7 linked regions of the Homo sapiens genome follow. Changing the gene in region 2 together with the main gene of any one other region gives a genetic interaction. Each region holds a gene or a part of one and is shown on either strand. Other genes may lie near its edges. The genes, in order: YTHDC1, GFI1B, DCTN2, CNOT1, GINS4, MTOR and ATP6AP1.

Region 1 (4,349 bases), on a different chromosome or scaffold from region 2:
GAATTAGTTAACTAGTACTCTCAAATTATTTTACAGAATGTTAGAAGTCATGATAAGATTTGATTTAGAGAAAATTACTATCTTTATAAGGAAATTACTGACAACACAAAAAAATGTCTCAAAGATAGGCTAGAAAGCTGCTCTGATTCTCACAAATAGGCCCACTCTTCATCTTAAGTGGGAAAATAAAAAGATGTTTATTTGGCCCCATACAGACTCATCAACCTAAGTAGGGAGTGGAAAAAAATTCTAACTTGCATATCCTACTTAGTTTAACAACAAAACTACCTTTCTAAGGCTATCAAACTTATATGCATATGAATTATGCTTCCAACACTTGCCAGAAGACAATTCTGCTTTATAAATAAAAGTACTATTGGGGGGGGTGGGGAAGCATTTAATAAACTCAGCCCCACTAGTTAAAAACCCAGAAAACTCAAACTAAAACTAGAGTCTTTTTTTCACTGGTCCTGTTTTGAAGCCATCAAAAAAAGCTTTCACATCAATCTTATCAAATAATTAACAGAATCAATGAATAAAGGACATGTCTGCTACATATCATAACATCTGGTTATTCTTTGCTAACATCACAATAACCAGAGGTAAAACAATTTATCAGTTACTAGCTTTAACATTTGGTAGAAATAAAAACAAATGACTAAATGAGATTACAGCTTATCAGCTAACTTAATATACACGATCTATCCTAGAAAAATTGAGTAAGAATACACAAAAAGTTCAGAAATATCTATTAACAATATTAATTACATAGCATAATTAAGATCTCAATATGGAAAGAACATAGCCTAGGTACTACCTAAAAGGAGTTCTATTTGTAGGCGTTTGCCTTAAGCAGTTTGTGATTTGATCAGTAAAAGAAATATATTCTATCTATATAATCCAAAGGGGCATAATCAGGCATTTTTAATAAAAACAAACAATTATTCCAAAACAGTCTGCAGTAAGAATATGCAATGGTCCGTCAATCATCATACTCTGGTCTCCCCATATTTAAGTTACCTACAGAATTCTAAGTAGTTCCCTCACACCTTTGCCTCCTTGTGCACTTACTACTCGTTTATCTCTGTATCTTGCTTCATGTGGTACTGGATGATGTCCTGAGTAAGGGGGATGAGCTTGAGGAGGTGGAGCATGGTGCTGATAGTAAGGATGGTGTGGAGGTTGTTCCATTCCTGGGTAAGGGGGCTAAAAAAGGAAAACCATTTACATTAAGAATCTACCAACACCCTTGTAAACAAGCGATTCTTAGAACCCTTCATCCAAAACACCAATCCCAAACAAGTGAATCTGTACTAGACATTTACTTTGATGGCATTAAGGTGTTTCAAAATATGCTTTTTGTCGAAAATTACACATCTTCTAAGATTTAACATGTTTATGCTTTTCTACTCCTATCATATAAATAACAATGGAAATAGCAAACACTTACATGGTGCTTACTGTGAGCCAGGCATTGTTCTAAGCACTTTACTAGTCTCATTTAATTCTCACAGCAACCTTATGAGATAGATACTATTGTTCCCAGTTTACAAAAGGGAAAACTGAAGCAACAAGGAGTTAAGTAACCTGCTTATAGTCACACTACTGTTAAAGTGGTGAAGCAGGCATACGGCATCAGGCATCCTAGTTCTGCAGTTGGTAAACTGGTTAACCACTTTGTATGTATCTGTTCTTAGAAACATCAACAGGCCTGGTGTGGTGGCTCACGCCCATATCCCAGTGCTTTGGGAGGCTGAGGGAAAAGAATCCCTTAAGCCAGGAGTTGGAGACCAGCTTGGGTAACAGAGTGAGACCTTGTCTCTATAAAAAAATTAGCCAGGCACAGTGGCATGTGCCTGTAGTCCCACCTACTCAGGAAGCTGAGGCAGCAGGACCACTTGTGCCCAGGAGTTCAAGGCTGCACAGAGCTATCATCACACCACTGCATTCCAGCCTGGGAGACCGAATGAGACCCTGTCTCTCAAAAAAAAAGTCCAGGAGCAAATTAACTTTTAAATGCCATTTAAAAAATGAATAAAGGGTAAATTAAAGATTACTTTCATAGTTACTATCAAGATCATATATTATTAAATTTTTAAAATTTCCTAGAATCTAAAGGGGAAAAGTCTCATAATCATCTGCATATAATAGTATAAAACTGTATACCTTAAAAGTGAAACAAAAGTCAGATGAAGAGGCCATATAACATATTGCATTTAAAAAAAGACATAAATTAAAATGTAAGAAAACAGTAGAAGCTACTTCAACTTCCAGGTTTTTATTTCTTGAAAATTAATGCTTCAGCTATCTTCAATATCTTAAAATATACTCTAAGACAATTCAGTTTTCTTAAAGGAAATAATTAAAAAGCAGGAATAATCAGGGTTTAATTAATCTTATTTTACACAGAAAATTTAGTGAGTATTAGATCAGGCACTATGCTAAACTTAACATGTACTTTGTAAATTTATCTTGACAATGAAAATGACACTACTACATTAAATTTTAAGCTATACCAGGACAGTCATGATGTCAATTTCATTCACCATGATATAATCAGAACAAGCACAGTGCCTTGCACAGAGTAAGTACTAAATATTATATTTGATAAGACAAAGCATCAGTGAATGCCCATGGAATTTTACAGATGAGGAAAACTAAGAGTTGTATTAAGAAATTAACCCAAAGTCACAGAGTTGGGAAGAAAAAGAAATATATCTGAACCCAAGCGGACTTTGCACTACTAATTACTACCATAATACACTATTACAGTTCTCAAGCCTGTACTATTAACACAAATGAGCTTTTAGTCTTTAGTTTGAAAGACAGCATACAATTATTTATCATCAAAAATCTGTATTTTAAGTCTTTTTGAGATGGAGTCTCCCTCTGTTGCCCAGGCTGGAGTGCAGTGGCGCAATCTCGGCTCACTGTAACCTCTGCCTCCTGGGTTGAAGCAATTCTCCTGCCTCAGCCTCCCCGAGTAGCTGGGAGTACAGGCACACGCCACCACACCCAGCTAATGTTTTTTGTATTTTTAGTAGAGACAAGGTTTCAGTTTCACCGTGTTGGCCAGGCTGGTCTCGAACTCTTCACCTCAGGTGATCTAGCCGCCTCAGCCTCCCAAAGTGCTGGGACTGCAGGTGTGAGCCACGGCGCCTGGCCAGTTTAAGTCTCTTTAATGAGTAACTGTAACAATCATATTCCGAGTAAGCACCTGAAATACTAGAACTGCAAATTAAGTTATGTAACTTATAAAAATAGAATAATACAAACCATTCCTTGCCAAGGTGGTGGTGGTCCCATGTTATGAAATTCCCTCACATAATCATTGTAGGACTAAAATAAAAGATGATAATGTCAATATAATTAAAAATTATCACAGAACTGCAAAATAAATCAGAGCCTGATTTTATCCACATTAAATAGATAAAATGAAATGCTTACCCCATTTAAAAACACATCTCGGCGAACTCCTGAAAATCGTCTGTTGGGAATAAGATTTGTGAAACTAAATTCAGGTAATTCATAAACTAGTTCCAAGAATGTAATTCAAAACTAGGCAAGAGTGAACCCGACTTACCTGTCCACTTCCTGGTATCGTGGATCCTTTAAATACCCTGTTCAAACATCAAGCATTTTAGTAAATCAAATTTATATTTTTCTTTTATGGCATTATAATTAAACCTTCCTTACCACTCGTTTCAATTCTTTCCATGAAATATGTACTTTAAGTGATGCTACTACTGTATTATCCCATTTTCAAATTTTCTTCTCAGATTACATGATAATCTAGGAAATAACTAATGATATCATAGAATTGTAAACTGCTAGAGAAGCTTTCAGATAGGTATCTTCTATGTTCACACTCCAAATCTTGCTAATCAGAAAATTTCTTCCTTCTGCTTCACAGGGAAGGTAAGGGCAGAGGAACTATCTTGAGCACACTATGACAGGACTTCCTTAAAACAAATGTTTACTTTCCACCTTGGGTATATGTAGGTCTTACCAAGAAAACCACAGATAAGCTTTTTAAAATGTAAACTTAAGGGGGAGGGGGAAAAAATTGCAAAAGTTGCAAAAATGAAGATGTATACACTGAAAATGAAAAATCGATGGTGGTTAGAAAAATATTCTTTCCCCTGCTTCTTTTAATAAGAACCCAACAAATTAAAATGTAAAAACATTTGAGTAGTCATGTTACTGGGGAAAAACTATTTTCACTTTCTACAACAGGACAACCTATTTTGGAAGAATGAGGCTAATCAAGCCACTTGTTACATAATAGTGCTATAATGATCACTAACATCAATCTCCTAACTGCCTAAGTTTCACAAGTGTATCACTGA
Region 2 (4,349 bases):
GTACAGGGCCTTGAGCGCGGCCCTGGCTTCTGGGAGGCTGCTGCAGCCCTTGGCACAGGGCTTACCCCGTCCTTTGAATGCACCTGCAGTGGGCTGGGTGCTGGGATGCGGGGGAGCACATGCTGAGCACCTCTCACACTCGCTCCTGATGGATAAAGGTCCTTTCTCGCTCCCCACCATCCCATGTGGTTGGATTGGGATCCCCGTTTAGCAGATATGAGCACTGAGGCTCAGTGATGAGCCTTACAGCAGGCAAGGGCTGGGCCTGAGCTTGGCCCCCTGTGCAGAGCCCCCAGTCCAAACTCTTGATGCCCCCAGGCTCTGGGCCAGGGGGAAGCAGGCCTGGGCATAGTCGGGTCCCTCTTCTGCCTGGCTGTGGTTCATCTCCTTGGGGAAGGGGTGAGTCCCTGGCCCTTTTCCAAGCTGCATTCTCTAATCTCCCACCTCCCACCCTGCTCCTGGGCCAAGGCCTTATCACCCAGGCCCTCACTGCTGTTCTGAAGCAGCTGTGATCCCTCTCCCGCCTTCTCCGGACCCTATCACCCCTGCAGCCTTGCATGGCGGCTGGCCCAAGGGGTGGGGGGGTGGGACTCCTCTGACGCCTCAGGCATGGGCCTGGTGTCGGCCTGGGTGCAGCGTGGGGGCAGAAAGGATAGAGGACCACCAGAAGATGCTCTCCAGAGTGCCCGGGGGAACCTCACAGGCTGAGTGCAGGGATGTGAACCATTCTGGGGGCCAGGCAGGGCTCTCAGCTCCAGAGGGCTCTGCAGGGGAAGCCAGGAGTCCTGGGGTGGTCAAGTTGGTCCAGCCCTGTCACTCCCTGACTCTGCCTGGGATGGTCCCTTGACTGATGTGGTCCTTGGTTTCTTCTCCCACTCCCTGACTGGTGGGGTTGGTAGTGATGCTGGGCTGCCCACGGAAGCTGGGGGCTGTTCGCCTCTTCTCCTGTGTCCATGAAGCCTCAGGCCTCCAGGTGCAGTGGAGTTGGGGGTCCTCTCAGGTCTTGAGTCCCCACACCCCACTCCTCAGAGAGAGAAAGCCCCTGTCTCTCTAGGGAACAGACTCTGGGCCAGGGCTGTGGACAAGGCGCAGCCGTGCTCTGGCGGCTGTGGCTTGCGGCTTGCAGGAGCACGTGGATTGGCAATGTCCCCTCGTTTGCTGCAGCTTCTCTGCCAGAGCCCCCAGTGATAGACACTGAACACCTGTGATGCACCTGTCAGCACTGCAAGCCTGGACATCCCCACTTACAGCAAAGGGGATAGGCCCAGAGAGGTTAAGTGTGTGTCCCAAATTGCACAGCAAGTGAACTGAGATTCTAACCCACGAACCACTGATTCCAAAACCTAAGCTCAGACCACCCGTTTCTATGGCCTCTGAAGGTGAATCTCACTGGTACCCAAATGTAGCTTTCTAGAATTGGGGTCCACTGTGTGTCACAGAGGGAGACCCCAGTCCCTGCCTTTCCTTTTCTGCTCCATTGCAGCCCAGGTCATGCCAATGGGAGCAGGCTTGTCTGAGCGTTTTCTAGGGGGCGATGCATTCATTTCCTGGTGAAGGAGCAGTGAGGGAAGTTAGGATTTGTAGCTGCCGTAACAAAATAGCACAAACAGGTGGCTTAAAACCAACAGAAATTTATTCTTTCATGGTTCTGGGATCTAGAAATCCAAAATCGAGGTGTCCGCAAAGTGGGTTCTTTCTGCAGACGCCAGGGGAGAGGGTTTCATGCCCCTCTCTGAGTTCTGGCGGCTGTCGGCACTGCCTGGCATTCTCTGGCTGATAGAAGCTCCGAGTTCTGGCGGCTGTCGGCACTGCCTGGCATTCTCTGGCTGATAGAAGTGTCACTCTCTGCTCTGTTGTCGGCACACGGCGTTCTCCCTGGGTGTCTGTGTCTCTGGGTCCAAATTTCCATCTTCTTATAAGGACACGAGTCATCTTGGATTGAGGGCCCATCCTAACCCGGAATGACCTCATCATAACTTGATTACATCTGCAAAAACACCCTATTGCTAATAAGGTCACATTCACAGGTTCTGGGTGGACATGAACTTTGGGGGCCACTGTTCAACCCAGTATAGCTGGTGTTTTATCTCAGGAGGAGGTTCTGAGATATGGAGGGGTATTGTTCTCTTGTCCTTCCTAACCGCTCCCATCCCTCCCCCTTGCAGGTGTGGGGTGCACACTGAAAATGCCACGCTCCTTCCTGGTGAAGAGCAAGAAGGCTCACACCTACCACCAGCCCCGTGTGCAGGAAGATGAACCGCTCTGGCCTCCTGCCCTTACCCCGGGTGAGTCAGAGCCCGGGCTGGCGCCTGCTGCACCCACGGGGGGCTCTCTGCTCTGCGTGATGAGGGTGCAGCAGCGTCCCTCCTGCAGCAGCCTCTTCTTCCAAGTCTGGAAACAGGAGTGCAGTAACTGTGGGTTGCAGATGAAAGGAGTAGACAAATGAGTGATGCCCTCATCCCTTCTGCCCTGTTAGGGAGACGAGAGTGTCAGGTTGGAGCCAGTACTTAGTTACTGGCATGTGGGGCCTCACTGGAGGCCCAGTCTAGGGCTGGAGTTGGGTTGCTCAGAAAAACAGACTGGTCCAAAGTCTTCCCCGGGGTCTCCTCCTGGCCTCTTCTTGCCGCCGCCTGCTCTGGGCAGAGCCCGGGAGTGTGAGCCGCCAGAAGCAGCGGCACGTGGCTGTCTCTCTGGGCCTCCTCCTCCTAGGAAGGGCGTGCCCTCCTTGCTCCCTCTGGGCTTCCCAGAAACCGTGGCTATTGATGCTGATGGTCCTATCTCCCCACAGTGCCCAGAGACCAGGCTCCAAGCAACAGCCCTGTCCTTAGCACTCTATTCCCAAACCAGTGCCTGGACTGGACCAACCTCAAACGAGAGCCGGAGCTGGAGCAGGACCAGAACTTGGCCAGGATGGCCCCGGCACCAGGTACCCCGCTGTGACCCACTGTCATTCCCCAGGGAGTGCCAAGGGGAGGAAGGATGAAGGGACTCTTGCAGCAGGGCCCCTTGGGGCCCTGGAGTCAGGAAGGACCCACGAAGTCACTGGATGCAGCCCGGGCTCTGTGGCTTCTGCTTGGGCCTCTCAGACAGGGAGCTAATTCCCGGATGTGGGCTAGGTGGGAGAAGAGGCCAGAAGCAGCAGCTGGGCCGGTCCGTGCAGGGAGTGAGGTGGGCACTGTGGAGTGAGGCTGGGGGTGTCTCTGGGCTGGAAAAGCTGAGGAGCCACAGTGAGGACCCAGACATTCCTGGCAGTAAGTATCTGGGTTGACACCCTGAAACCCTCCACATGAGGTGATGAAGGTAGTGGTGTGTGGTAGAGGGTGGTGGGAAGGGGGTGCCCTGTGTTTATTTTATTTCATTTTATTTTTTGAGACAGTGTCTCACTCTGTTGCCCAGGCTGGAGTGCAGTGGCACGATCTCAACTCACTGCAACCTCTGCCTCCCAGGTTCAAGCAATTCTCCTGCCTCAGCCTCCCTAGTAGCTGGGATTATAGGCGTGAGCCACCACGCCTGGCTAATTTTTGTATTTTTTGGTAGAGACAGAGTTTCACCACGTTGGTCCGCCTGGTCTTGAACTCCCGACCTCAAGTGACCCACTTGCCTCAGCCTCCCAAAGTGCTGGAATTGCAGGCATGAGCCACGCCACTGTGCCCAACCCCCTGTGTTTAAATGAGTAACCAGGCCTGTGTCGTTATCTCCACAGAGGGCCCCATTGTGCTGTCCCGACCCCAGGATGGGGACTCTCCACTGTCCGACTCACCCCCATTCTACAAGCCTAGCTTCTCCTGGGACACCTTGGCCACAACCTATGGCCACAGCTACCGGCAGGCCCCCTCCACCATGCAGTCAGCCTTCCTGGAGCACTCCGTCAGCCTGTACGGCAGTCCTCTTGTGCCCAGCACTGAGCCCGCCTTGGACTTCAGCCTCCGCTACTCCCCAGGCATGGATGCGTACCACTGTGTGAAGTGCAACAAGGTGGGCAGCGGGGGGTGTGGTGGGCACCTGGGCCCTCCTCTCCGCACTCCCTCTCAACTCACTGGCAGCTCTGGGCGTTCTCTGTGCTGTGAATGTTGGGGCTCTGGTGGGATTAAGGATTCAAAACGTTCATCCTCATCACCATTCATTGAGCTCTGACCACGTGCCTGGCCCTGTGCTAAGCAATTGACAGGCATGAGTGCCAGAGTCAGATGAAAGGTTAAGGTTCAGAGAGGTTAAGTCACTTTTCCAGGATCAGACAGCAAGTAGATATCAGAACCAGCATTCAAACCCAGCTTCGGCCAACTCCCAGCTCTTAACCACTGGGCTATTCAGCCTCTAGATGAGGCAAGGAGGGGCCTCCAGATCCCCTC
Region 3 (4,349 bases), on a different chromosome or scaffold from region 2:
GTCCCCCTCACACCCTCTCCCCACATACCTACACACAGGCAGAGATTCTCAGTCCTGGCTGTAGGTTAGAATCACCTGGATATCTGGCCCTACCCCAGAATAATTCATTAGAATCTCTAGAAGTGGGCCCAGGCCTTTTTTTTTTTTTTTTTTTCTTTTCTCTCTCTCTCTTTTTCTTTTTTTGAGACAGGGTCTCACTCTGTTGCCCAGGCTGGAGTGCAGTGGCATGATCTCTGCTCACTGCATCCTCCACCTGCCAGGCTCAAGTGACCCTTCCACCTCAGCCTCCTGAGTAGCTGGGACCACAGGCACGTGCCACAATACCCAGCTATTTTATATTTTTTGTAGAGTTGGGGTTTCCCTATGTTGCCCAGGCTGGTCTTGAACTCCTGAGATCCACCCGCCTTGGCCGAACTTTGGGAGGCCGAGGCGGGTGGATCACTTGGAATTAGGATCCTCCCAAAGTGCTGGGACTACAGACAGGCTTGAGCCACCATTGCCCGGCTGTCTATTTAAAAAAAAAAAAAAATTATAAGTGATTCTAACATGCAGCCTGGGGTGAGAACCATTGTTCTAGGTGAAAGAAGGAAGGCTCATTTTGCCTTCCTCCCATAGAAGGTAGAGATGTCATCCCCAACAGAAAAGGACTCCTGGGTCTCCCTCCTACTTCCATCAGTACTCTGTTGGGAGCTGTCAGGCTTCTGACAATTGAAAAAGGGACATGCAGTCAGGAGTGCTTGGTGCAGTCTTGGTGTTGTCACTGGAATCTGAACAGCATGTAGATATCTAGTAAGGAGGGAACCTCTCTGCTTCAGTTTCTAGGGTGAAGTCTCTTTCACCGCCTACTTGTGTCCCCTGTTTTTGGAAGAGCTTCAGTGCTTAAAGCATAGCAGAGGAGTCAGGGAGAAAAATCAGGTGCTGCAGCGTCTCTGAAGAGATGCTGGTTTATCTCCATTTCAGAGCTTACATGTGGCTCTTGCCCATGGATACTCTTGGCAAGCAGATATTGCCTATGTTTGTTGCTTCTAAGATGTCCCATAAAGATAATCCAGTAAGCCCTTGCCCCTTCTCCCTGTCCCTGAGTTCGCTGGCCTCATGGCAGCCTGGAAATCAGGCTTCTGGTCAGGCCCTCTGTCGGCCTTCTTTTTGTACTAAGAGCTTGTGTCTTACCTTCAACAGGTTTAAAGTCCTAATATTCACACTCAGTGTTAGTGGCCTGATTATCTGCCTTCCCTCCTCTTTCCTTCTAGCAAGGATGGGAGGTTAGCATTAAAATGGACTTGCTCAGCGGGCAAGATTTACTTTTGGGAGGGGGAGGTTAAAAGAGGTCAGGTTGGTTTCTTGCCTTGAGTGCATGGCGTGTGCCAGACAACTGGGAGGGGTAGCATGGGGGGATGGGAAGGCTTATGTACAGAGAGGGTGGGGAGGTTATGCTCCCTCTGCTCCCAGTTGAATGAGGGTGTTAATATTTATACAACTGAGGCTCCAAATTTACCAGGAAGCTTCAGTTTCCTAGGTTAAGCCTGGGTAGGCGCCTTGGAATAGAGCCACCCTTCTTTCCCCTTGGACAAGTAGGGCCCAGTCACCTAATGGTTTGGGGATTTTGTGGGGTAGAGTAAGTTCTAGAGTGGGAATGAGTGTGTCCCTGGCCTAAACTACCTGTTCTTGCAGGAGGAGCTGACAAGCACAAGTGTGGAACACATCATTGTCAATCCTAATGCTGCCTATGACAAGTTCAAGGACAAGAGAGTGGGGACAAAGGGACTTGGTGAGACTGGGCTGGAAGCTGGGTGGGGGGAAGACTGGAGGATAAGCATGAGAAGTGGTTTCCTGTCCTAAAGTCTTAGTGAGTTGTGCTTGGGGGAAGGGGTCCCTCATGGAGATATTTTATGGAAGCCCTCACAGTCACCTGAGACCATGACTGCCTTGGGCCTAGATCAGGCCCTCAGTTCCATCTTCTTTTCTTGGCAGATTTCTCAGATCGTATTGGAAAAACCAAGAGGACAGGATATGAATCTGGAGAATATGAGATGGTTTGTTGTGTGTGTGTGTGTGTTGATGGGAATGGTGTAGTGACCCTATCTAGCAGACATGTAGTAGGGAGATCAAGGGATACAGGCGGGATTCTGTTCCTCCTCTGTTCCTGAGGAAGCAGCAGGATGCAGCCAGGGAAACTCTGCCCTACTGCTGTTTGTTCTGGAGAGCCTCCAGCCCTCTAGCTGTCCTCAGTTCTTTGGTACTAGGGTGTTGTGGATTCTCAATTGGATATGATACCTTTATGACTTAGGCCCAGGGTGTGGATGAATTCTTGAGGCTCCCTGTAATGAGACATATAACATTACCCTCTGTGCCTGCTCTCTAGCTTGGAGAGGGTCTGGGAGTGAAGGAGACACCCCAGCAAAAGTACCAGCGCCTACTGCATGAGGTCCAAGAGCTGACAACTGAAGTTGAAAAAATCAAGGTAACTACAAACTCTCTTCTCCCTTCTCTGCTGTGACTTACACAGTAGAGGAAGACCTCAAGCAAGAAGAGAAAGATTCCCTGCCTGGCTGGGTGCGGTGGCTCACGCCTATAATCCTACCACTTTGGGAGGCCGAGGCAGGCGGATCACCTGAGGTCAGGAGTTCAAGACCAGCCAGGCCAACATGATGAAACCCCATCTGTACTAAAAAAATACAAAAACTTAGCCAGGTGTGGTGGCGCATACCTGTAATCCCAGCTACTCGGGAGGCTAAGGCAGGAGAATTGCTTGAACTCGGAGGCGGAGGTTGCAGTGAGCCCAGATCATGCCACTGCACTCCAACCTGGGTGACAGAGCGAGACTCCATCTCAAAAAATGAAAGAAAGAAAGATTCCTTAAGCTCCTGGATAAAGGGGCTAAGGTTTCCAGAGTTTACAAATATGCATCCATCTGTATGCAGTGCTACATACAGGTGGGCAGTCTGTCATGCTGAAAACCATCCCAGTGACCTCCAGCTACAACTACCTTTAAAGGGCTTGACCTATTTTTTTGCTTCTTGATTCATTCTTGCCATCCCCCGATTTCTACCTTTTTTCATACTAGACGACAGTGAAGGAGTCAGCCACAGAGGAGAAGCTGACCCCTGTGTTGCTGGCTAAACAGCTGGCAGCCCTGAAGCAGCAGCTGGTTGCTTCCCACCTGGAGAAGCTGCTGGGACCAGATGCTGCAATCAACCTTACCGACCCCGATGGCGCCCTGGCTAAGTGGGTACCCTACTTTGTTGAAAAATCATTGCTGACTGGGGTTGTGGATGGACTCAGCCAGCTACTGACAGGGGTGCTAAGTGGCAGAGAAGTGGCTTAGATGTTTCTTAATGCTGATTATGAGGCAAAAGTGAGGGAGAGTGACTGGCCCTTCTCCTTCCAGTCATGATATTATTACTCGGTCTCCTAACTAGGCGCCTACTACTGCAGCTGGAAGCAACAAAGAACAGCAAAGGGGGATCAGGGGGAAAAACCACTGGGACCCCCCCAGATAGCAGCCTTGTCACTTATGAACTACATTCTCGGCCTGAGCAGGACAAGTTCTCTCAAGCTGCCAAAGTAAGTGTGGATACAGTGTTGGTTGGGAAGCCAAGGGGAGATGTGACCCTAGAGATTTTCCTGCCTCTCTCCAAGGAGAGGGTGCTGGGAAGGCTTCTGATTCCTCTGATTCCTCTTGATTGATTCCTCTTTTGATTCCTGATTCGTTGTTCTCTATGTTTCTTTCTTTTTTTTTTTTTTTTGAGACGGAGTCTTGCACTGTTTCCCAGGCTGGAGTGCAGTGGCGCAATCTTGGCTCACTGCAAGCTCCGCCTCCCGGGTTCACGCCATTCTCCTGCCTCAGCCTCCTGAGTAGCTGGGACTACAGGCACCTGCCACCACGCCCGGCTCATTTTTTGTATTTTTGGTAGAGATGGGGTTTCACCATGTTAGCCAGAATGGTCTCGATCTCCTGACCTCGTGATCCGCCCGCCTCGGCCTCCCAAAGCACTGGGATTACAGGCGTGAGCCACCGCGCCCGACCTCATTCTCTATGTTTCCCTCGCCCATCTACCTTTGGTTAGGATTTTAAGATTGTGGCTAGGTATGTATTCCAGGGAAAGGAATCCCTTGGGGTGGTGAGTGGCAGGCAGAGTAGAGCAGGATCGTATTCCTCCCATTGCAGCAGCAGGGAAGCAGATGGCAAATCTCACCTCCTTCCTCCCACTAGGTCGCAGAACTTGAAAAGCGCCTGACAGAGCTGGAGACAGCTGTACGTTGTGATCAGGATGCTCAGGTCAGGTGTTCTCCTGTACATAATCTGAGCCTTAGATCCTGCAACTCTAGGCCTTAAGGTCTACAACATT
Region 4 (4,349 bases), on a different chromosome or scaffold from region 2:
GCAGCCTAACAAAACAATGTAACAAGAGGCTATGTTTAAAGGGACTTTAAGTTTATTTTCACACTAAAAAACTTCAGTCACATACACCAAAACTGATACTGCACGATTCTGGATAATTCTTTCCTTTATGCTTTTTTGTATTTCCTGCACTGAGCAGATAATGTCCAATTAAAGATAAAATAATCAGCTAGACCTGTGAATAAATATACTGACAGAACATTCCTTCACTATTGTGGCTTGAAGCATTTTTACATTTTTGTGATCAGATTGTAGCAAAAAGCACAGAGAACTCTACTCTGAAAACTGGCAGGCTTCACTCACCCTCAGTGTCCAAGTCCACAGCCAAATTCTGGAAGATATCCATGTGTGCTGAGTGAGTGATGGTGCTCATTGAAGGTGTGCTGCCCTTGTTGTGGATGTGCGCAATGGCCTGAGTCCCGACATAGAGCACCAGTGCATTGATGAGCTGGAGGTTGTAGCGATTCCCAGGTTCATTGGATACCTTAAAATGAGCAAAACAGAACTCCTTATGCTTACTCCTGCAGAGGACCAATTCTAGCACCAGTATTTCTAAACCCTTCTTACACCTTCATGGAAAGGCCAAACATTTATTGTGATTCACTTGCTTGAATTTGTGAGGTTATTTAACAAACACACAGATGCTCCAAAGGTGGTTGTATCAATAAGAGAAATGTGATTTCCCTCAGGAAGCCGAAGCTCAAGGCACAGCTCTAAAGTAAAGTTTATAAAATCAAAATATGCACTGTGCCAATTAAAGATTTGGAGAGAAAGTTGTAGTTGCATGGCATATACAGACTGTAAATATATAACTTTCCAAAATATCCTATAGAGAAATGTAAATCAGCATCCAGGTATTCAGAAAAATCCTAGGAGTACCAACAGCTAATGACTGTCTGTGGTCTACTCTTCTAGTGCTGTCTTGTCCAAAGCTGTAGCAAAATATCACTGATTAAATGAACTAGTAAAATACGTAAATCCAGTTAATCAACCTCACCCAATTGATGGAAATGACAATAAAAGACTAACTCCCAAATGGACCACACACAGGACCATACATAGAAAGTGCTTTATATGGAAGACGTAGATGAGTTTTAAGCCAAACCAATTAACCTGTAGGTTGCTGCGCAGATCAGACAGGAAAGTGACTGGTGATCGAGTTTTAAGATAGGAATCCAAATCCTTTTTGAACTGAGGTGGCATTACTCCAGTGAAATTGGTGAGAATCCGGGGAGCAATGTTAATTTCACTCAACATGTCCACCTGCCACAGATAAAATGCAAGAATCACAAGCAGAATCATTTTTATTAGTAAATTACATCTATGCTTAAGTGGTGGGACTGTTTTTCTAAAACTATATACACTATAAATGCCTTGAAGAGCACAGCTGCCACATTTTATTAATCAGTCTTTCTTTCTTTAGAAGAATCTTGGTTCAAAATGATAAAAATTTCCCACTCTATAATGTATTTCCTTCCCAGAGGCAAGATACCTTTTGGGCAAAGGTCTAATTTGCACAACTAACTGATTTTTCTTGGACTTCGGTTTCAAAATAATAATCCGGAATAAGATTCCTCACTCACCAAGAGTCTTTGAAAAGAAGCCCCAGCAAGACCAGACATCACACTTACTCCTTAAAAAAAAAAAAAAAAAAAAAAAAAATTGAAGCCGGGCGCAGTGGCTCACGCCTGTAAACCCAGCACTTTGGGAGGCCGAGGTAGGCGGATCACCTGAGGTTGGGAGTTCAAGACCACCCTGACCAACATGGAGAAACCCCATCTCTACTAAAAATATAAAATTAGCTGGGTGTGGTGCCTGTAATCCCAGCTGCTCGGGAGTCTGAGGCAGGAGAATCGCCTGAACCCAGGAGGCAGAGGTTGCAGTGAGCCACAGCTCGCGCCATTGCGCTCCAGCCTGGGCAACAAGAACGAAACTCCGTCTCAAAAAAAAAAAAAAAAAAAAAAATGCATGTGTCAGAAAGAGTAGAGACTACATCTAAACTATAGCTGGGCACTTCTAGTGGTGTGCACCTCTAGTCACAGCTACTCTGGAGGCTGAGGCAGGAGGACGGCTTGAGCACAGGAGCCTGAGGCTGAAGTGCACTATGTTCACACCTGTGAATAGTCACTGCCCTTCAGCCTGGGCAAAACAACGAGACCCCTGTCTCTTAAACAAACTATAGTAGCCATGTCAGGGTGGTGAGATTTTAAGTGGTCCTCTCTCTCCTTTATTCCAACAACTTACAAAAAAATACAGTGGGTTCTCCATACCCTTAGGTTCCATATCTAATTAACCTCAAATCGAAAATATGGGGGGTGAAGGTAGAGGTAGATGATGGGGTCAATAAAAAATAATACAACAATAAAGGCCGGGTGCAGTGGCTCATGCCTGTAATCCCAGCATTTTGGGAGGCCAAGGCAGGCAGATCGTGAGGTCAGGAGTTTGAGACCAGCCTGGCCAACTAGTGAAACCCCGTCACTACTAAAAATACAAAAAAAAAAATTAGCCAGGCATGGTGGCGGGCACCTGTAGTACCAGCTACTTGGGAGGCTGAGGCAGGAGAATCACTGGACCCCAGGAGGCGGAAGTTGCAGTGAGCTGAGATTGCGCCACTGCACTCCAGCCTGGGTGACAGAGTGAGACTCTGTCTCAAAAATAAATAAATAAATACAAATAAATAATAATACAACAATAAAAAACACAAATTTTAAAAAGTTATTAATATAGTTTAAAATAGTTATTTCCATAATAGCATTACACTACATTAGGTATCATAAGCACTACAGATGTCATTTAAGGGGATATGCAAAGGTTATATGCCACTTTACATACAGGACTTAAGCATACTTAAAATTTGGTGTCCCAGTGGGTCCTAGAACCAATCCTCCAAGAATAGCAAGGGACCAAGGAACAACTGCACAAGTGCACAGACACAAAACTGTGAAATATGGAGACTATGGCAGGGCGTGGTGGCTCACACCTGTAATCCCAGCACTTTGGGAGGCCGAAGCAGGCAGATTACTTGAGGTGAGGAGCTCAAAACCAACCTGGCTGACATGGCGAAACCCCATCTCCACTAAACACATAATTAGCCAGGTGTGGTGGCGAGTGCCTGTAATCCCAGCTACTTGGGAGGCTGAGGCGGGAGAATAGCTTGAACCAGCGAAGGGGAGGTTGCAGTAAGCCGAGACTGCACCACTGCACTCCAGCCTGGGTCACAGAGTAAGACTCTGCCTCAAAAAAAGAAAAAGATTACAAAGGTCTGTTTGTTCTGCAATTCTTTGCCATGTGGGGCACACCCAGCAAATGACTGCCCCAACACCTAAGCTGTGGTTCTGTAAATAGAGCTAAATTTAATATCAAAATTAATATGAAAACTAGCAACTAGAAAAATGCTGTGAACCAATATTCACCAGCAACAGCAATAGCAACAATATCATACCTTCTATCAGGCTTAATAACATTATTTCCTTTAAAGAGTACCCTTAACTAATAGTGTGCGTGTTATGTTGGGTAGGAAAGTGCTGAACAGTCTACTTATCAGAGAAAGGACTGAAATATTAAGACATAAGTTTTCCTTTAACTAGTTGGAACCTTACCTTTAGATTAGGAGTGAATGGGTCGGGGAGCCTCATGTTTCTTGGAAAGGCACTCAGGATCAAATTTCTTAACTGGATACAATTAGGTGGGATCACATCACAGAACCCATAATGGTAATCACAAAGGAACTCTGGGAAATCATGCAAAAGAACCAGCAGCACTCTTAAAGTGCCCTATTTTTAAAAAACAAGAAAAATATTTCCACACTAAGGAAAATGGAGTAACATTTTCCTATTGTAACTTAAGCCCCCCACCCCCCTCAAAAGAATGAAGTATACTTTAGTAACATTTCTTAAAAAGTTTTAGGCTTTAATTAACATTATCACAGATGATTTATCAAATATTTCCATTTAGGTATCATGAAAAACTAGGCATCAAGAGTTTACAGGCTGAAATGAATATGCTAGAAGAGGAGACTGGACAAAAAATAAAAATACAATGATGTAAGCGTCTATCTTCAGAAGCTAAAAAAAAAAAAGAACTAATGAAAACCAAAGAAAGTAGAGTAAAAGCATATAATAAATTTTTTAAAGTACTGAAAAGGGAGAAAATCAGGGCCCAAGTTAGTTATTAGAAAAAATAAATTGATAAACCCTAACCAAGGCTGACAGAGAAAACACAAAAATTATTAATGTCAGGAATGACATTACAGATCCTACAGTCATAAAAAATAGTTTCAGAACATTAAACGACTTTATGCTCATAAATCTGACAATTCAGATCAGTGGAAA
Region 5 (4,349 bases), on a different chromosome or scaffold from region 2:
ACCCGAGAGGCAGAGGCTGCAGTGAGCTGGGATCATGCCTCTGCTTTCCAGCCTGGGCAACAGAGTGAGACTGTGCCTCAAAAATAAATAAAAATTATTCAATATTTAATAAAAATCAATCAAAAAGAAATGCTGCTCCTAATAAGCCCTCCAGAAAATATGATGTTTTCCCATGCATTATGCAGGTTTTTTTTGTTTGTTTGTTTCAGTCTGCAGGACTGTTACAGATGCTCAGGCTCTGCACAAATGCCTATGACTGTAGCCATACCCAGCATTTGGTAATGTGTCTTGACGGTGATCATGGGGAGAAGCAGACACTCAAGGACGTCAGAAAAAAATAAGTTGAGCCTGGTCAGCATATAATTCTGAGCTATGCTAAAACTACATTTCCTGTAATTGAAAGATAAGTGTAGCTTTCCTCAGTCACTTAGGGATATTTCAGTTCTCTAAGCCTTGGAAGTCTCTAAAATGAACCAAACAGCTGGGCCTGAGTCATAAATTAGAGCTTTAACCTCTGGCTCCAAAACTCCATAATAGATGAGCGCCTGTTTCTATTATGATCCTGTATACTTTGGGGCCATTAGTAAATTACTCAATCTGTATTTTTTCAATCAGATGAGGATAACTATATCCATTTTCTCTGAGATATGATGATGATGAATGAAAAATATTTGTGAAGTGCTCTGAGCTTCAGGAATGAAGAGCTGTGTGGATTGGTGGGTTATTGCTTTCTCTCTAAATAGACATGGGGTGGCGCTGCCTGGGGGAACAGTGTGCCCGGGCTGCCTGGCAAAGGCACTATTTGAACACCAGGTGGTGTCACTCTCAGCACCAAGCGTCACACTAACTGAAGTAAGCAAGGGTTTGTATGAGTGTCAGTTGAATAGAAGGTTGTGAACACAGCCTCCCAACTAAAACAAGACACGAGAAAGCAATCGCTAAACGTAGTTTGTCTTCAAAACACCTTCAATGTTTCCAGTTGGTGGGCAGACAGTTTTCTTGCCTGCGCCATCCCTGGTTTTCGTTGGACTTGGGCTGACTCACTGGGTTGTTTAGCTCTGTGGTGGGTGATGCTTGCTTTTTCTGGCATTTGTCTTTTAGGCCTGGATGAATGAAAAGTTTGCCCCTGAGCTGCTGGAGAGCAAGCCTGAGATTGTAGAATGTGTCATGGAACAGCTGGAGCACATGGTAAGAGTCGCTTGTCTTGGGTTGACAAAGGAGGAGAAAGGTAAAAGCATTTGGTCAGCACACTGAGAGCTTGTGGTCTGGTAGCAAATCTGTTTTGTTTGGCTCCACTCACAGTCCAGTTCTTTAAAACAACATTGAATTAGTTATCTATGTTTATCAATCTTGAGAGTGCCTGTAAATATCTGGATATTGGCTTCCCATGAAAAGTCTAAAATCCTGCATTTCTGCATGAGAACAGTTGACCAGAGCAGTCCCATGAGAGCTGTCCATCCATGTACTCCCTGCTCCCCACAGCCCCTGACTACCCACCCTTCTCTTGTAGCCTCCCCACCTGGCCCCTGCAAACATTTGAGTTTGTGGTCCCTGGCCTAGATGATCTGAGCATAAATCATTGTCAACTTCAGAGAAGCTGTAAAATGTGGATATTTCAGTTTCTCAGCTGGTGTTTTAATACTGCTTTTTAGACCCAATGGAAGTTTCGTCTGTGTGCTGTACTATCTCCCTTACAATCAGATTGGAGTTCTTTTGGAAGCCTCTGGCTGAACAGATTCTATTCAAATGGTCATTTTCTAAAAGTAAATGACTATTGTTTGTACTTTATACAATGATAAAATGAAAACTCACATGATATTTTTGTTTTCCTTGGACTGAAACATAGTCTGGGTCCTCAACGTTGCCGGTGATGATGGTTGAACATCATGTTTTTTATAAACCTTAATTTCTCATTTAATAGGAAGAAAATCTCAGGAGAGCCAAAAGGGAGGACCTGAAGGTCAGCATCCACCAAATGGAGATGGAGAGGATCCGCTACGTCCTCAGCAGCTACTTGCGGTGTCGCCTCATGAAGGTTTGACGTGGAGATACCTGGAGGGATTGAGACAGCACAGTCTGTAATGCAGACTGAATGTCCTGGGGAAAACTTGGGCTGGGGCCCAGGAGGGTCCAGGACCTGAAGATGCTGCTAAGAGCCCAATATCCATGTAGCTAAACTGTAAGGAGAGCGAGAGATTGCTCCACAGAAGCACAGAGGAACGTGTGTGGCCCACTGCGGGGACACCGCACACATTTTTAGTCTGTTCACCTGCCGAGTGAGTGGTTCCCCCTTGCGTTACAGCATGGCAGTGCTAAAGGGAGAGTTGTTGGCATTGGTCAATAGTGAATGCTGACTAGAGGAGAACTTGTTTCCAAAATTATTTTGTCTGTCAGATGGCCAACGTCAGTGTCAAATGAACCAGGATGACTTACATTCACCTACAGCTTTGTGGCTATCTAACTTACAAAAATGAAGTTGCAGGCCAGGCGTGGTGGCTCACACCTGTAATCCCAGCACTTTGGGAGGCTAGGCGGGTGGATCACCTGAGGTCAGGAGTTTGAGACCAGCCTGACCAACAAGGTGAAACCCCATTTCTACTAAAAATAAAAAAATTAGCCAGGCGTGGCGGCAGGCGCCTGTAGTCCCAGCTACTCAGGAGGCTGAGACAGGAGAATTGCTTGAACCCAGGAGGTGGAGGTTTCAGTGAGCCAAGATTGTACCACTGCACTCCAGCCTGGGCAACAGAGCGAGACTCCGCCTCAAAAAAAAAAAAAAAAGAAATTGCAAAACATTCCTAGTTTATAACTCTGAGAAATTCTTACTTCCTTGACATTTCATTTGGTTCTATGTGTCTCTTTAGTTATTACAAATAAGATAAATTATCTCTTCTACATGAGAATGCTTCAGCTATCTGAAGACTGCCCACAGTCTCCTCGAAGTCTTCTCTCAGGCATACATTTTAGCCATTCAAACCATTTACTCTCCTGGTCTCTTCTCTAAAAGGGTTCTTGTTTGTCTCTATCCTTCTTAAGTTACACTATCTTAAACTAAACACAGTATCCCAGTTGTAGTTTGACCAAGTTTGTGAAAAACAGAATGATCATTTCTCTTATTCTGGTTATTAAGCTGGTAGTAATGCCAACCACATCACATTAGCATATTTATCACATTAGCATATTGACAGGTACGCTGCCTGAGCTCATTCTTCACTCACGTGGACACTAACCCCTTTTAAGATGATAATTACCCCATCCAGTCACTGTCCTCTACTTGTATGGCTTAGGTTTTGGCTCCTTAAGTGTAGGGCTTGATACTTATCTCTCTTAAGCTTTATCTTATTAAATTGGGCCATTTCCCTTGTCTCTGGATGCTGATCTTGTCACCTAATGTATTAGCTGTCTCTTAATACTTTATGTCATCAACCCCCTTTTTTTATTTGTTTGGTTGTGTTTTTTTGTTTTTTTTGACAGAGTCTCACTCTGTTGCTCAGGCTGGAGTGCAGTGGCGCGATCTCAGCTCACTGCAACCTTCGCCCCCCAGGTTGACGTGATTCTGTTGCCTCAGCCTTCCAAGTAGCTGGGATTACATGCCCCTGCCACCAGGCCCAGCTGATTTTTAGAAGAGACAGGGTTTCACCATGTTGGCCAGGCTGATCTCGAACTCCTGACCTCAGGTGATCCACACCCACCTTGGCCTCCCAAAGTGCGGGGATTACAGGCATGAGCTACTGTGCCTGGCCCACATAAGGTTTTTGATGGCATGCTTACCAAAGCTGGTGATGACCAGTTACAGGCTCACGCCTATAATCCCAGCACTTTGGGAGGCCAAGGCAGGTGGATCACCTGAGGTCAGGAGTTTGAGACCAGCCTGGACAACATGGTGAAATCCTATCTCTACTAAAAATACAAAAATCATCTGGGTGTGGTGGTGGGTGCCTGTAATCCCAGCTACTTGGGAGGCTGAGGCCGGAGAATCACTTGAACCCGAGAGTTGGAGGTTGCAGTGAGCTGAGATCACACCACTGCATTCCAGCCTGGACAACACAATGAGACTCCATCTCAAAAAAAAAAAAAAAAAAAAAAAACCTTATGTGATTATTAATTGGACTGTGGCAAGGGTCTTTCACAAAAGACTTCCCTACAGTTTGACATCTACCCATTGAGTCAGCATTCTTTTTTCAGCCACTTAGGAGTCTCCCAATCCAAGCCGTCCCCTAGCCCCAGGTCCATAGCTTGCCTGCAAGGGTGTCTCAGAGACGTTGTCCTGTGTCTTATGGTGTGTCTCTCCACCCACCCTATCCCACCTCCAGGCCACATGTCCTTCCTCGGGAGGGTTGTGTAAACCCTCT
Region 6 (4,349 bases), on a different chromosome or scaffold from region 2:
AAACTCAGGAGGTAAAATCTGAAGGTTACCATTTATAGAATGCCCACTATGTATTAGGTGCTGTGCTGGACACTTCACACACATAGTCATCCCCTTAGTATCCATGGGGGTTGGTTCCATGACCCACTGCGATACCAAAATCTGCAGATGCTCAAGTCCCTCCGATAAAGTAGCATAGTATTTGCATATAACCTATGTATAGCTTCCCACATACTTTAAATCATCTCTATGTTAGTTATAACACCTTATACAAAGTAAATGCTATGTAAATATTTGTTGCACTGTATTTTTAAAAATTTGTATTATCTTTAAATTGTTTGTTTTTTCCTTGATTTTTTTTTTCTTTTTAAAAAGTTAAAAAAATTTTTTTGTAGAGACACGGTCTCACCGTCTTTTGCCCAGGCTGGTCACGAACTCCTGGGATCAAGTGATCTTCCCACTTCAGCCTCCCAAAGTGCTGAAATTGCAGGTGTGGGCCACTGCACCCAGCCCTGGGTATTTGTGAACCATGACTAGTTGAATCCAGATGTAGAACTCATGGATATAGAGAGCCAACATCATATAGAAACCGCACAAGAGCCCAATGAGGTAGGTAAGAGCCCCTGTCCAAAGGGAGAAAAATGAGGCTAAACAGGTAACTTGCCTGAGTCGCACAGTCATCAGAGCGGTGGGGATCTGAAGCCAGACTCCTCCTGCTTCTGCACACTGCTGCATGCGCTGCTCCCACATCTGGGCATGGCTATTATCTAACAAGCACTGTGTCTATTATAAGCAGGAATCCCCGGGGTAAAATTTCACAGCTCATTTTCTACAGCCAGTCTCACAGATGGAGCTTTACCTCCCAAATATATCCTGAATCAACTACTTCTCAGTATCTGTGCCACCACTCCTAGTCAAAGCCACCACTGTCACTCACCCAGACTACCGTAATAGCTTCGTCTGGCAGCCGTGAGAATGCAACCTCCAACTACAAGGCGCATAACCAAGGGCCCCAGCTGCTGCTCTGAAACCCATCACTAAGTTTGTGCCAACGTCACCCATTGCTCCCAGCCAATGACAGAACACAGTAGGGATGCTAAGGCTATCCTGCTCTTGGGAGACACAGACCTCTCTGACAGCCAACTTTGGCTTGAGGACCCCGCGGTGGCCCTGCAGAGTAGGCTAGAACACTTCTATCCGAATTTTACCCTCTTGCTTACTCAGGGTCAGATGTGCATTGTGGTCCGATGCTTCTCCCAGCTTCCTCCCCATATTCTCTTGAAGGCTGTTTCCCTAATAAAATCCATGCACTTTTAAATCCACCTTCTCAAGCCAACACATCTCCTAATTGGTCTCCCTGCTTTCATTCCTGCCTTTCCCCACATTTTTTCCTATAAGCAGTCAGTGATTGTTAGAAACGCATGACATCACATTATTCGCCTGTGTGCATACTTCCAATGTTTACCCCTGTGAAAGCTCGTGTTTACTGTGAACCGTGGGCCTATTAATTTGGCCCCTCCTTCCCTCTCCCTTGCTCCCGGTACACCAGCCATACTTCCCTTTCTTCTGTTTCATCAATGTCTCACACTCTTCCACCTCAAAGCCTCAGCCTGGAACACAGTCCCCCGGCCTGCTGCAAGGTAGCTCCTTCGTGTCATGTGGACCCCCGTCAAATAACACCACCTCAGGGAGGGCCTTCCTTGACCCTCCACTCACCCCCTCCCCATCACTCTCTATTCTATTCTGGTTTGACTTTCTTCATAGAACTTGCTGCTATCTGAAATTATCTTATTTACTTATTTATTATGTTTCCTGCCACAAAATGTCAGCTCCATGAGGACATGGATCTCGCCTTGCCTCGCTCACAGAATGGTACACGGGGAGCCTGGACTCCCCTCTGCCGTGGCTTCTCACCTCTCCCTCCATGCTGCTGATTCGGACCAGCTCGTTAAGGATCAACAAGGCTCCATGGATCCGATCATCCCGATTCATGCCCTTCTCTTTGGCCAAGGTCTCATCAAATCCCTTCTCTGCTTCTTCAAATGTGTGCTATGTAGAGAGACAGGGTGCCTTCATTAGAGACAGAGTACAAACCCAGAAAGAATACAGGCCCATCCCATCTACACTGGGGGTTCTGAGGTGCTACCACGCCTGCTCAGTGCCTAGTGCCAGTCATCAACAAAACTAACTGATCAATCTCTTTTATTTAATTCAGCTTCAATTTTTTTTTTTTGAGATGGAGTCTTGCTCTATTGCCCAGGCTGGAGTGCAGTGGCGCAATCTCGGCTCTCCACAACCTCCACCTCCTGGGTTCAAGTGATTCTCCTGCCTCAGCCCCCTGAGTAGCTGAGATTACAGGCACACACTACCACGCCTGGCTAATTTTTGTATTTTTAGTAGAGACAGGGCTTCACCATGTTAACCAGGCTGGTCTCAAACTCCTGACCTCAAGTGATCCACCCATCTCAGCCTCCCAAAGTGCTGTGATTACAGGTGTAAGCCACCACGCCCAGCCCCAGCTTCAATTCTCATAATAAGCCTTTGAGGAAGATACCATCATCATCCCTATTTAACAGCTAAAAACACAGGCTCAAAGAATTTAAGTGACTTGTCCAAGATCACACAGCAAAGGCAAGACTGGAACCCGCATCTCCCAATCCCATGTTCAGAGCTCTTTTTCTAATATAAGACTCACTGATAAGTTCCCTCTGCAGCAGTAATCAGCACAGGCCTCATTATACTAGAGCAGAGAGAAATGGCACTTTCTAAATTAGTATCATTTGTATCTCACTGATTTTGAGACACCTATTTTTCCGTATTTTAACATCTCTGAAAAGAGATGTCTTTTTTTTTTTTTTGAGACAGAGTCTCACTCTGTTGTCAAGTCTGGAGTGCAGTGGCATGATCATGACTCACTGCAGCCTTGATCTCTTGGGCTCAAGCAATTCTCCCGCCTCAGCCTCCCAAATAGCTGGGACCACAGGCGTGTAACACCAGGCCCAGCTAATTTTTTTATTTTTTGTAGAGACGGGATCCCACATGCTGCCCAGGCTGGTCTCAAACTCCTGAGCTCAAGCAATCCTCCTGCCTTGGCCTCCCAAAATGTTGGGATTACAGGCGTGAGCATCCAGCTGAGATGTCTTATAATTAATTATTAATAAGAAGAAGGTACAAAGTTGGCCGGGCACAGTGGCTCATGCCTGTAATCCCAGCACTTTGGGAGGTCAAGGCAGGTGGATCATGAGGTCAAGAGATCAAGACCATCCTGGCCAATATGGTGAAACCCTGTCTCTACTAAAAACACAAAAATTGGCTGGGCGTGATGGCACATGCCTGTAGTCCCAGCTACTCGGGAGGCTGAGGCAGGAGAATCACTTGAACCCAGGAGGCAGAGGCTACAGTGAGACAAAATCACACCACTAAACTCCAGCTTGGTGACAGAACAAGACTCCATCTCCAAAAAAAAAAAAAAAAAAAAAAAAAAAGAAAGAGGTACCAAGTCACAGTTTAATTGGCATATTTGCATTCTTAGTCATACATAAAATAATGTATAGAATAATGGTATGGCTATCAATAGATGTTTGCTTTAATAAAATGCAATAAAGTAACTATTGATTCATACTGAGCATAAAAAATTCATTGGAGGCCAGGCGCGGTAGCTCATGTCTGTAATCCCAGCACTTTGAGAGGCCAAGGCAGGTGGATCACCTGAGGTCAGGAATTCGAGACCAGCCTGGCCAACATGGCAAAACCCTGTCTCTATTACAAAAATTAGCTGGGCGTGGTGGCACACGCCTGTAGTCCTAGCTATTCGGGAGGCTAAGGTGGGAGAAAATCGCTTGAACCCAAGAGGCGGAGGTTGCAGTGAGCCGAGATTGCGCCACTGCACTCCAGCCTGGGCGACAAAGCAAGACTCCATCACAAAAAAAAAAAAAAAAAAATTCATTTGAGAGCAAACCAAAACGTGATTCTTGCTCCATGGCAAGGGCTTGTGGCTGCCCTTTAGGCCAGGTGATTCTCTACGCAGATGTGCTTTGCTAGTGGTGGGAATGGAGCCATCTCCTTACCCTGTACCACTGAGGCTTCTGCATCTCCTTCGGCTCACGCTGGGTTGTGAGAATCAGACAGGCACGAAGGGCGGCTACAGCTCCCTCACGGATGGCCTGTTTGGGGTCCCACACGGCCACAAAAATGTTGTCAAAGAAGGGTTGCACTTGCTGGAAGAAGAAGGTAGGGACGCTGATGGCCAGCTCACGGAGAACCAGGACCTGGAGAAAAAAGCAAACCGAGAACTCTCATTGGTACCAGAGTTTTGTTCTCTCAGGAGTACAGTCTCTTGTCATCTTAGAGCCATACACACCAGGAACAGA
Region 7 (2,853 bases), on a different chromosome or scaffold from region 2:
CCCACCAACACACAGTTGTGCTCCACCATACTGAACCTGACTCTCAGTGAGACTTTGCTGGCCCTGAGAATGCACGGGGAAGGTGGCTGTCCCCTGCCTTGGCCCCCATCACTTGCCAAACCTCCTCAGATGTCTCCCCTATTTCCCTAATAGCTGAGCATTGAGGATTTCACAGCATATGGCGGTGTGTTTGGAAACAAGCAGGACAGCGCCTTTTCTAACCTAGAGGTGAGAGTCCTCTCCCAGCCAGGGGCCATGGGGGACATTCTGTGCTCCTTCTCCCAGCATAAGAACTGTACTCTGACCTCATATCAGGGTTACTTGGGTCTGAGTCTCTTCTGGGTCAACCATCCCCCCCAAAAACAACAACAACAACAAAAGCCACCTCATACTCTTAGGGAGCAGAGACGCTGGCTTTGGGGTAGAAAGGCCTGGGGCCTGAATGTCAGGGGCTGGGGTGTGGGCCATTTTCTTGGTGAGCCTTTATGGGTATGGCTTGCCAGAGGAGAGCTGCCAGAGAGGTGTGGGGGGCTGGGCCAGGCCCACTGGCCCCTGGCTAACTCACCTTTTGCCTCTCCCCTGTCCCCAGAATGCCCTGGACCTGGCCCCCTCCTCACTGGTGCTTCCTGCCGTCGACTGGTATGCAGTCAGCACTCTGACCACTTACCTGCAGGAGAAGCTCGGGGCCAGCCCCTTGCATGTGGACCTGGCCACCCTGCGGGAGCTGAAGCTCAATGCCAGCCTCCCTGCTCTGCTGCTCATTCGCCTGCCCTACACAGCCAGGTACTGCCCGCATGGCCCAGCCACCAGCCTCGGGGCCCAGAGAGCAGCAAGGCCCTGGGCTATGGCATGTGGTGGCACCGTTTGGCTAAAGATGCCAGTACTCCCCACCCCCTCACAGCCCTTCCAGAAGGTGCCCTGTGTGGCCAGAAGAGGAGGGGAGGGCCTCTTCTGTGACTCAGGAGTTGGTGCCTAGCACTGAGCTGGGCCTCCAGAGATGAGGCAGATGTGAGCCCTGCGGGTGGGGAGCCTTCTCACCTAGCCAGGCCCTTGTCACAGAGCAGGTGGCCAGGACTTGAGTGTGACTGAGAAGCCTCGGGGTGGGATGGGCTTCCAGGAGGGGGCACTGAGGTAAGAGTGTGCAGGCTTGGTGCGTGGGGCTAGTGGGGAGGAGAAGCTGGGGTCGGGGAAGGGTAGTGGGCAGTGCAGGTCCAGGCCGCCTGAGGACTCTGGCGCTCTGTTTGTCTTCCATAGCTCTGGTCTGATGGCACCCAGGGAAGTCCTCACAGGCAACGGTGAGTAGAATCAGGGAGGATGCACGTCCTCATCTAGCCCTTGGGTGGGGGCCACAGAGAGAGCTGGCCTGCAGTTCCTCGGCCTCCTCACTCCCAGGGTGGCCCGCCTGCTTCTCGGGGCAGCTGGCAGTGGAGCAGGGAAATGCTGGCTCCCAGGACCAGCCAGGGACCACCTGACAGAAGACCCTGTCCAGCCAGACCCCACTTGGCAGAGGGGGGCGGCTCTCTGTGCTGGAGGCTGTGGAGCCAGTTTCTGTGCAGGCAGCGTGAATCCTAGAGTTATGGGTTTAATAAGACTGCAGACATTTGGAAAAACAATTCTGGGGACTCATCTATTTGCAATAAAGGACAGTCACTCCCCATGGAAAGGCAGTCGTGAACCTTTCATGGGTGGATGTGGAGTTTTCTGTATTGATATGTATTTTCTTATGTCACATAGGTAGGGCTTGGCATTAGGGAATCGATGACTGAAGCCACAGTTGTCTCTGGGGGAGGCTGGGAATGGGGGTGGGATGAGAAGTAGCTGCTCCTAAGGATCCTCAGTGGAAAGTAAACACACCACTTTCAGATGGTCTAGAAGGTTTCTAAAGCAGACAGTGGGGAGTGTTTCTTTATGCAGGGTGCCTGGTGACCTGAGTCTCTGCTCTCCTTGTTGACCCTCAGATGAGGTCATCGGGCAGGTCCTGAGCACACTCAAGTCCGAAGATGTCCCATACACAGCGGCCCTCACAGCGGTCCGCCCTTCCAGGGTATGTGCCCTTCCAGCAGGGGCTCTGGGGCGTGCAGGGAGAGGCAGTGTGGTGAGTCTGCTTGGAGGTGGGGAGTGTATGCCACAGGTAGGCTGCCCAGGAGGCCCAGCATAGGGGAAGCATGAGGCACAGAACCCCTGTGGTGTGACTATTTGGAGTGGCTGACTCTGGGGGCAGGGCTAGGATGAGCACTCAAGTCCTGCCTCCCCATTCCAGGGGCAGCTTTCCATCTCGTCCTGTGAGGCTTGTGGGTGGCAGACTTGGACACTAAGTCTAAATGACCCTAAGTTTGAGGGACTAGGAATGTCATCAGGGTTTAGGGGGCATCAGGGAAGGCTTCCTGGAGGAAAGGTCTCCTCTGGCTGATGGGACTTTGAGATAGTGGACAGGGTGTCCTGTTGGGAGGGGAAGGAGGGCACGACAATTGGGTTCAAGTGTGACACTCTCCCAGGGCTGCTGAAAGAAGGCTGGTTGGGTGTTTCTGCAGGTGGCCCGTGATGTAGCCGTGGTGGCCGGAGGGCTAGGTCGCCAGCTGCTACAAAAACAGCCAGTATCACCTGTGATCCATCCTCCTGTGAGTTACAATGACACCGCTCCCCGGATCCTGTTCTGGGCCCAAAACTTCTCTGTGGCGTACAAGGACCAGTGGGAGGACCTGACTCCCCTCACCTTTGGGGTGCAGGAACTCAACCTGACTGGCTCCTTCTGGAATGACTCCTTTGCCAGGCAAGGGCACTAGGCTGGGGAGGACTGTGCCACCACAGGTGACCTTCCCATCACTGTGGGTCGCAGGTGGGGCAGGGAGCCAG

The links.
Region 1: changes in GFI1B (region 2) and YTHDC1 together harm fitness more than expected from each alone (negative genetic interaction), as found in Homo sapiens cells (one large-scale study listed by BioGRID).
Region 3: changes in GFI1B (region 2) and DCTN2 together harm fitness more than expected from each alone (negative genetic interaction), as found in Homo sapiens cells (one large-scale study listed by BioGRID).
Region 4: changes in GFI1B (region 2) and CNOT1 together harm fitness less than expected from each alone (positive genetic interaction), as found in Homo sapiens cells (one large-scale study listed by BioGRID).
Region 5: changes in GFI1B (region 2) and GINS4 together harm fitness more than expected from each alone (negative genetic interaction), as found in Homo sapiens cells (one large-scale study listed by BioGRID).
Region 6: changes in GFI1B (region 2) and MTOR together harm fitness more than expected from each alone (negative genetic interaction), as found in Homo sapiens cells (one large-scale study listed by BioGRID).
Region 7: changes in GFI1B (region 2) and ATP6AP1 together harm fitness more than expected from each alone (negative genetic interaction), as found in Homo sapiens cells (one large-scale study listed by BioGRID).

Annotation. Positions count from the first base shown.
Region 1 is NC_000004.12:68,315,243-68,319,591, forward strand, and holds part of YTHDC1 (YTH domain-containing protein 1), read right to left. Parts: intron 3,621-4,349; coding exon 3,584-3,620; intron 3,512-3,583; coding exon of another isoform or gene 3,488-3,511; coding exon 3,448-3,487; intron 3,340-3,447; coding exon 3,277-3,339; intron 1,207-3,276; coding exon 1,072-1,206; intron 1-1,071. UniProt on the Homo sapiens protein: Regulator of alternative splicing that specifically recognizes and binds N6-methyladenosine (m6A)-containing RNAs.
Region 2 is NC_000009.12:132,984,494-132,988,842, forward strand, and holds part of GFI1B (zinc finger protein Gfi-1b), read left to right. Parts: intron 1-2,165; 5' UTR 2,166-2,185; coding exon 2,186-2,285; intron 2,286-2,788; coding exon 2,789-2,926; intron 2,927-3,703; coding exon 3,704-3,975; intron 3,976-4,349. UniProt on the Homo sapiens protein: Essential proto-oncogenic transcriptional regulator necessary for development and differentiation of erythroid and megakaryocytic lineages.
Region 3 is NC_000012.12:57,533,168-57,537,516, reverse strand, and holds part of DCTN2 (dynactin subunit 2), read left to right. Parts: intron 1-1,671; coding exon 1,672-1,768; intron 1,769-1,971; coding exon 1,972-2,033; intron 2,034-2,362; coding exon 2,363-2,461; intron 2,462-3,064; coding exon 3,065-3,225; intron 3,226-3,419; coding exon 3,420-3,564; intron 3,565-4,213; coding exon 4,214-4,279; intron 4,280-4,349. UniProt on the Homo sapiens protein: Part of the dynactin complex that activates the molecular motor dynein for ultra-processive transport along microtubules. In the dynactin soulder domain, binds the ACTR1A filament and acts as a molecular ruler to determine the length.
Region 4 is NC_000016.10:58,524,858-58,529,206, forward strand, and holds part of CNOT1 (CCR4-NOT transcription complex subunit 1), read right to left. Parts: intron 3,792-4,349; coding exon 3,618-3,791; intron 3,249-3,617; exon of another isoform or gene 3,066-3,248; intron 1,282-3,065; coding exon 1,132-1,281; intron 503-1,131; coding exon 322-502; intron 1-321.
Region 5 is NC_000008.11:41,535,259-41,539,607, forward strand, and holds part of GINS4 (DNA replication complex GINS protein SLD5), read left to right. Parts: intron 1-1,101; coding exon 1,102-1,188; intron 1,189-1,812; exon of another isoform or gene 1,813-1,921; coding exon 1,922-2,035; exon of another isoform or gene 2,036-2,052; intron 2,053-4,349. UniProt on the Homo sapiens protein: Required for correct functioning of the GINS complex, a complex that plays an essential role in the initiation of DNA replication, and progression of DNA replication forks.
Region 6 is NC_000001.11:11,251,946-11,256,294, forward strand, and holds part of MTOR (serine/threonine-protein kinase mTOR), read right to left. Parts: intron 4,248-4,349; coding exon 4,047-4,247; intron 2,029-4,046; coding exon 1,894-2,028; intron 1-1,893. UniProt on the Homo sapiens protein: Serine/threonine protein kinase which is a central regulator of cellular metabolism, growth and survival in response to hormones, growth factors, nutrients, energy and stress signals.
Region 7 is NC_000023.11:154,431,677-154,434,529, forward strand, and holds part of ATP6AP1 (V-type proton ATPase subunit S1 precursor), read left to right. Parts: intron 1-153; coding exon 154-228; intron 229-589; coding exon 590-783; intron 784-1,254; coding exon 1,255-1,295; intron 1,296-1,958; coding exon 1,959-2,044; intron 2,045-2,531; coding exon 2,532-2,770; intron 2,771-2,853. UniProt on the Homo sapiens protein: Accessory subunit of the proton-transporting vacuolar (V)-ATPase protein pump, which is required for luminal acidification of secretory vesicles.